Regions from separate parts of the Homo sapiens genome. Here region 1 is linked to region 2. Evidence: fine-mapped expression QTL. A gene starts in region 2. The other region holds a variant in brackets. All regions are shown on one strand. Distances are between the middles of the regions. Region 1 overlaps SAE1 (SUMO1 activating enzyme subunit 1). Region 2 holds the start of BBC3 (BCL2 binding component 3).

Region 1 (4,210 bases), 38 kb before region 2:
GTGAGACTCCATCTCAAAAAAAAAGAAGAAAAACAAAAACAAGTAAATAAATGAATAAAAATAAAGGAATCCAGCCATCTGTTAGTATAGCCAAAGCAGAGGATATTGCATCAAATGTTAAACGCTAGTCCTGTCAGTCACTCCTGAGAGAACAGGGCAACAAGACCCAGAAAGGGTATCAACACTGCCTGAGCAGATGGAGGCAAAGCTGTGCATGGGCTGCTTATAGGGCACAGTCTGAGGCCTTGCAGCAGTCACGTGGAAACTGAGGCTGCCTGCTTTCCAGGTGCAAGGTGATGGACAGTGGCAGGAACCCTGTGCTAGATGACTCTTGTGCGATCTTATTTCTTTGTTACTGGGACACAAGCACCAACTGTCACAAGGGACCAACAAGAGGAGGTGATTTTTTTTTTCAGCTGTTACCACAAAGCTTTTCATCTTTTGGTTTGAAAACATAGCTGTGGGAATAGGCCGGGCGCGGTGGCTCACACCTGTAATCCCAGCACTTTGGGAGGCCAAGGCGGGCCGATCACAAGGTCAGGAGATCGAGACCATCCTGGCTAACACGGTGAAACCCCGTCTATACTAAAAATACAAAAATTAGCCGGGCGTGGTGATGGCCGCCTGTAGTCCCAGCTACTCGGGAGGCTGAGGCAGGAGAATGGCGTGAACCCGGGAGGCGGAGCTTGCAGTGAGCCGAGATCGCGCCACCGCACTCCAGCCTGGGCAACAGAGCGAGACTCTGTCTCAAAAAAAAAAAAAGAAAAAAGAGAGAGAAAGAAAATATAGCTTTGGGAGCACCAAAGCCCAAAGCGTTATAGTGCCTACTATGTGTCAGGCACTATACTAAACATTTCACATGGCTTAGCACTCATGTGATCTTCACGATAACCTGGTGAGCGGGTAATTATTATCACCCTTCCTACTGGTTTGTTGTTGTTGTTGTTGTCGTCGTTGTTGTTTTGAGACAGAGTCTCGCTCTGTCACCCAGGCTAGATTGCAGTGGCACGATACCGGCTCACTGCAACCTCTGCCTCCTGGGTTTGAGCGACTCCTGCCTCAGGCTCCCGAGTAGCTGGGATTAAAAGCGTCCGCCACCATGCCCAGCTAATTTTTGTATTTTTAATAGAGATGGGGTTTTATCATCTTGGCCAGGCTGGTCTTGAACCCCTGACCTCGTGATCCACCCGCCTTGGCCTCCCAAAGTGCTGGGATTACAGGCATCAGCCACCATGCCCGGCTACTTAATTTATTTTTTGAGACAGCCTCTCTCTGTAGCCCAGACTGGAGTGCAGCGGTGTGATTTCGGCTCACCGCAACCTCTGAATCCTGGGTTCAAGCAATTCTACTGCCTCAGCCTCCCAAGTACTTGATTATAGGCACCCACCACACTTTCGGCTAATTTTCCTATTTTTAGTAGAGATGGGGTTTCACCATGTTGGCCAGGCTGGTCTCAAACTCCTGACCTCAAGTGATCTGCCCACCTTAGCCTCCCAAAGTGCTGGGGTTACAGGTGTGAGCCACTGCACCTGGCCTCCTTTATTTTATGGGACATTTTTTGAAAAGAGGCTTGGTCCAAACAGGCAGTACTTGCCACTTCTGCAGTCATTTCTCTACCCTGCCCCAAAATGGTTACTCAGTTGCATTTATTTACTACAATCGGAATACCAGCAGGACATCTACAAAAGTAGAAGTATTGGGTGGTAGCAGATCAGTGCTCTCTGGCATCCAGATCGTCTAGATGGTCACAGCCTTTTTTTTTTTTTTTTTGGAGACAGAGTCTTGCTCTGTCGCCCAGGCTGGAGTGCAGTGGCACAATCTCGGCTCACTGCAACCTCCACCTCCCGGGTTCAAGAGATTCTCCTGCCTCAGCCTCCCGAGTAGCTGAGATTACAGGCACCCACCACCATGCACGGCTAATTTTTTTGGTATTTTTAGTAGAGATGGGGTTTCGCTGTGTTGGCCAGGCTGGTCTTGAACTCCTGACCTCAGGTGATCCACCTGCCTCAGCCTCTGAAAGTGCTGGGATTACAGGCATGAGCCACCACACCTGGCCAATTGTTA[C/T]AGCTTTGAGTTGACTGCCAAGTGTTGAGGTAGCATTGAGGGTTGCAGAAGCTGTGTTCTTGAAAAAGAGAAGAGAGTAACATTCTCAGAAAGCAAACAGTATTCAGAAGAGTCAATGGGTGTTCTGGAGCTTTTTTCTTTTCTTTCCTTTTTTTTTTTAAAGAAATTACCAGCTGGGTGCTGTGGCTCACGCCTGTAATTCCAGCACTTTGGGGGGCCAAGGTGGGAGGATCACCTGAGGTCAGGAACTTGAGACCAGGAATTTTTCTATTTTTAGTGAAACCCCATCTCTACTAAAAATACAAAAAATTAGCTGGGTGTGGCTGCAGGCACCTGTAATCCCCAGTTACTTGGCAGGTTGAGGCAGGAGAATGGCTTGAACCCGGGAGGTGGAGGTTGCATTGAGCCGAGATCACGCCATTGCACTCCAGCCTGGGCAACAGAGCAAGATTGTCTCAAAAAAAAAAAAAAAGAAAGAAAAGAAAAAGAAAAAGAAATTACCTCTTCTCTGATATGCAGAGCCCCGTCTATACTGGACAGGTGGAAGTTACCAGAGAAATACAGGCCAGGGGCCTTTGTCTGACATTGGCACTGAGAAAAGCATAGCCCAGAAGCAGGGTGTGTCTTTTTTTTTTACCTGGGCATCTGTGGTTTGAGATCTTCTTGGAACACTTTATAACCCATTTCTGAACGTCTCCCAGGCTTCAGTGGAGCCACCTGTTGTAGCTTCTAAAACTGTGTCCTCCTCAGTTGTTCTCCCACCCATTGCCTTCACAGATGCAGAGACCAAGATTCACTCACTCGCCATTGGACCTTTAGCACCCAGGTCTGTCTGGCACAAAGTAAGTGCCAGGCTGGTGGAGTGAATGAATTCTACTTAGAGAATGGCCCTCAACACAGGCTGCTCATTACCAAAACTATTTGGTCTTTAAAAAGTGTGACTCTGATGCTTCAGTCTGGGGTGGGTACCAAATACTTGTATTTTTTAAAGAGCCTCACAGCAACTTGAATTTACCTTAATTTTTATGTAGGAACCCTTGTCCTGGTAGAGAGTATAATTTGCTGAATAAGTCTACTTTTTCAATCAACATATACGGAAGAGATATCAATGAAAGAACTGACAAACTGTAAAGCCCCCTCTCCAGGTGTAAAGCACTCAGGGCTTGGGCCTAGAAGCTGATCCATGTCTCTGTGTCTGTTCTGAAATAGCCTGTGTGATGTGGGAGAAAGAGTATTGTCCTTAGAGACAAGGCTCGAGACTGGCTGTGCCCTTTCCTTGGGCAGTATGTAGGGAACAAGAATGCCTGCCCGCCCGCAGGCAGGTTACCTGTGGACAAGGTGTAGTGGGCAGTTAGAAGGTGTTGGTATGTTAATCAGTCTTTTTTTTTTTTTTTTTTTTGAGATGGAGTTACGCTCTATCGCACAGGCAAAGTGCAGTGGCGCGATCTCAGCTCACTGCAACCTCCCAGGTTCAAGTGATTCTTCTGCTTCAGCCTCCCAAGTACCTGGGACTACAGGCGTGCGCCACCACGCCTGGCTAATTTATGTATTTTTTTAGTAGAGACGGGGTTTCACCATGTTGGCCAGGCTGGTCTCTAACTTCTGACCTCGTGATCTGCCTGCCTCGGCCTCCCAAAGTGCTGGGATTACAGACGTTACAGACGTGAGCCACCACACCTGGCCAGTCTTTTTTTTTTTTTTTCTGAGATGAAGTCTCACTCTGTTGCCCAGGCTGGAGTTCAGTGGCACGATCTCGGCTCACTGCAACCTCTGCCTCCCGGGTTCAAGCGATTCTCCTGCCTCAGCCTCCTGACTAAGTGGGACTACAGGTGCCTGCCACCACGCCTGGCTAATTTTTGTATTTTTAGTAGAGACCGGGTTTCACCATGTTGGCCAGGTTGGTCTCGAACTCCTGACCTCAGATGATCCACCCGCCTTGGCCTCCCAAAATGCTTGGATTACAGGCGTGAGCCACTGCACCCAGCCTAATTAGTCTTTTGCTCCTATTTGTCTTTATTTGGGATAAAAGTTATAGCCTTGTTGGGGTCTTCTTACACAGTAGTTCTGACTCACAGCCATCATCTGAACCTTTCCTCTGGTTCACAACCAAAATTAAACATCCATTTATGGGGATTGAGATAGTTTT
Region 2 (4,171 bases):
CCGCCCACCCCACCTCCCACTTGCACACAAACACTGAGATGGCCCCAGTCTCGGACATCACTACTCAGTACACACAATACACACACACCCCCGACCAAAGCAGGAGCATCCAGACAGACCATCACAAGCACTCTACATACTGCGCACACTGGCTGGCACAATCCATCCCCACACATCCAAACTGTCAAAGTCTCACACACTGACCCACTGTTGATATGCCCAGGGGCACATGCAAACACAATGCAGCCTTTGCAAACACAAACACACACACACAAGCTAGGCACTGCCTCAGTTCCCAAACATGCCCCTCTCCACACACACACACTCACTCCAGAGATAAGACCTGCACACCTCTGGACTCACATATCAACACAAAACAGACACCCACGGACACACATACATCAACACCCCCAAAACACACCCACATGTCACCAACTCTCAGGACACACGTAGATCAGGCACACACAGACACATGCCATCAGACCTCAACACACCACCAGACACCAACCCACCCTCCTCACGCAACCCTCAAACATCATCACCAACTGTCAGCAACACACACACACACACACCCTACAGCTAACTCTAATCCCACACAGCCCAGCAGCACACACACCTAGCGCACCCACAGAAAACACTGGTCTCACGTGACTGACATAAACACTACACACACGCAGCCCACATGACACACATGAGCCAGCCGATCACAGTGACAAGCCCCTCAGACCCAACACACACACACACACACAGGCTCAGACACAACCCCATCCAGAGGCTGCCAGCAACACCCACCGTCTACACTGCATAGACCCCACAGATCCTGGGTCCTCAAATCCCAGACGCTGATGCCAGACACACAAGCCAAACCCAGACTGAAACAACCCCCCACCACACACATACATACACACACACACTCACACCTGACAACTCACACAGACACCTGGACAGAAAACAGACATTTGCATTTAGCAGGCGCAGCATCACAAACGCTGGGCAAAAGACACATGCCCCGGAGATACAGAGACGGCCTCAGCCAAGACAGAAACACACAGGCAAGACACAAGCACACATATCGCACGCTCGGGCAAGACACACACATAAACACACAAACAGCTCACTCCAGCAACACACACACACTACAACCTCCACACCCCAGCACACGCAGGCACCACAGACCCCCAGTATCATCCCGGAACAGCACACACAGACAACTCTCACCGACAACACACGCAGGTCCACCCACCCCACAAGCAGGGCACCCACAGACAGAACCCCACACAAACAGGCGCGGGGACTCACGCAGACACCCCGACGGGTCAGAAACCCCAACATTCCTCTGGATCGACACCACCACTCCCTGCAGAACCCAGCACAAACTCGGAGCCAGACACGCGCACACACCCAGGCGAGACACCTGCAGATCCACAACCCCGCACACGCGCGCTCCCACGGCGGTCCCAGACACCCCCCTCCGCTGTCACAGCCCCCCCCACCGCCGCCACGTGCGCCCGCCCCGCCCGCCAGGCGAGCGCGGGGCCAATAACCGGCTGTTGCTGGGGCGCAGCCCCCGCCCGCAGGAGCCGCAGACTCCACGGCCCGCGAGCCGCCCCCCGTCGCCGCCCCCAGCGGGCGCGCGCCCTGGGTGTGGCCGCCCCTCCGTGCCGCCCCCCCGCCCCTCCCGGACTTTGGGGGCTGGGGCACCCCTGGGGTCGACCCTCTTCCCCGGGGCCGCACTGGCCGCCAGGGGGCGCTGCCGAGCCCGCACCCCATTGTTTGTAAACAAACCCGCCAGACCGCCGAGGCACCTGTGCGCCCAGACCGGCGCCCCAACGCCGAGCCGCCTCTCACCCGGCGACCCTGGCCCAGGGTCCCTCGCGGGGTTTGGAGAGGCGCGGTGTGGGGAGGCAGGGCGCCCACACTGCTCTCCGCCTGCACTCCTGTCACCTCCTCCAGGGAGTCCACCCGGCCTGGCCGATCGCCGCCGGAGAGGATTCGGGGCGCGCACACTCACCCCGGGGGCATGAACACGCCGGAGGGGGCGGCGGTGGGGGGCGGGCGGCTTCCTTCAGGAGGGCGCGCCCGCCGAGCGCCGCTCTCCGCGGCGGCTGCTGCTGTGGCTGTCGCTGCTGCTGCCGCTCTAACTGCAGTGGCGGCTGCTGTGGCTGTGGCTGCTGCTGCTCCCCGGGCCGCAGGCGCGTCCGCGTCGTGGCCGCTGCTGGGATCGCTGGTGCCGCCGCCGCCGCCGCCAGGCGCCCGCTCGCATGTGGCTCGCGCCGCGTCTCAGGCCGCCCGGCGGATCCCGGGCCCGCTCCAAAGCCGCCCCGCCCCGCCCCGCCCCGCCCCCGCCCGGCGGGTCCCACGCCCCGCCCCCGCGTGACGCTACGGCCCCGCCCGCCCGCCGCGGACAAGTCAGGACTTGCAGGCGCGCGCCGCGCCCCCCCCTACCTCCGCGCCGGGGGTTTCCCTGCAGCGGGGGACGGGGCAGGGCCTAGCCCAAGGCAAGGAGGACCCAGGCGCTGTGCGGCGGGGTGTGGGGAGATCGCCCAGACACCGGGACAGTCGGACACACACACTGACTGGGACCCACAGATCCACACCCCCAGCGATGCGTACACAGACCGACCGACGGGCGTTCCAGGGTCCACAAAGTCACGTGCAGGCAGAGCCCAGAGGATGTACTCACAGACACAAGGCCACAGTCTCGCAAATCCACACCATGGACAGGGGCATGAGCACACACACTCACATACTGATGGGGCTCACACTTACACACACCCAGACGGAAATGCACAGACTCACTAACAGGGTCCCCTGGACAAGCAGACGGACACAATGACAGGGCCACACACAGTTGCAGAAACACCCACACTGATGATCACACCTGGGCCCACAAACTGTGTTCACAAACAACCCTACCGAACAGGCACCCACACCACACACACGGTGGTGCAACCACACAGACATAGGCGGAGTGCTTATCAGGAAACACAAACTTGCTGATAGGCACAGGGGACACACACATACACACAGACACCTGTTACAGGGATACCTGGATACACGGCCAAATCCAAATCACACTCCCACAGGGACATACACAAATGCACTCACACAATTTCACAGCTAACACATTAAAACTATCAGAAAGTGACATTCGCCCGACACGGTGGCTCATGCCTGTAATCCCAGCACTTTGGGAGGCCAAGGTGCGTGGACTGCCTGAGGTCAGGAATTCGAGACCAGCCTGACCAACATGATGAAACCCCATCTCTACTAAAAATACAAAATTAGCCGGGCGTTGTGGCGCATGCCTGTAATCCCAGCTACTTGGGAGGCTGAGGCAGGAGAACTGCTTGAACCCGGGAGGCGGAGGTTGCAGTGAGCCGAGATAGTGCCATTGCACTCTAGCCTGGGCAACAAGAGCAAACTCCGTCTTAAAAATAAAAATAAAGGAAAGAAACTGACATTCAGAGACACAAACCAAATCAGACATAGAAGAAACTGACCACCCACACATGTCACAAAGTCACACCTGTGACAGCTTCTTGCTAACTGGCCCACTGCACACACGTCGGAGCATGCACACCTGGCCACACTCACCACAAATCTGGCAGGGGACCCACGTCGTGGAAGCAGCCCTGGGCACCTGGCATGGACATGCCTGGGCAGACCCCATGCCAAATTTCATCCTGTCTCATAGCTTTCCATTCCGTTTCTTTTTCAGTTTCTCATTGTTACTTCCTGCCCTGCTCTGGTTTGGTGAGTTTTGTCCTTCCTTTTTCCAAAGCCGTGGATTCCTGTCTCCTCTACACTTTCCATCCTTACTGGGTCTCACCCAATCGCAATCGCCTCACCAGAGTGACTCACCTTCCAGTGCCTAGTGTGGGGCTGGCTGAGTAAGGATGTCAGACTTCTCAAACTTGACTGCCTCCAAGTACACACTCTTAGCTCCCCCAAGAGATGCAGGTAATCTATATCTCACGTGAAATCTCCCCATTTGCAACATTGGGAACTCCTCAGCTTTCCTCCCTCTTTCACTTTCCCTCCTCTTTCGCTTTCCCCGATTATTCATTGTCCCTTCCTTCTTCCTGGTGTTTTCCAAACTGTGGGTCATGAGTAAACCATGGATTATGACATATGACATCACTTACATGGATCTTACTTTTTTTTTTTT

What was found. PIP is the estimated chance that this variant, and not a neighbour inherited with it, causes the effect.
Region 1: its variant is the best candidate, but not a certain one, in a credible set for the expression of BBC3 in sun-exposed skin (GTEx, PIP 0.69).

Annotation. Positions count from the first base shown.
Region 1 is chr19:47,191,305-47,195,514 of GRCh38, forward strand. The region is part of intron 6 of SAE1 (SUMO1 activating enzyme subunit 1); the gene reads left to right. Among named protein-coding and RNA genes, the nearest start is that of MIR3190, 34 kb to the right of the region's middle. The variant C/T (reference allele first, on the strand shown) is at 2,065.
Region 2 is chr19:47,228,918-47,233,088 of GRCh38, forward strand. It overlaps BBC3 (BCL2 binding component 3), which reads right to left and starts at 2,282. Exons shown (of 4, transcript NM_014417.5): 1 at 2,012-2,282. RefSeq lists silencers at 1,440-2,159, 2,300-2,529 and enhancers at 2,670-2,789, 3,499-4,122, 3,549-3,818.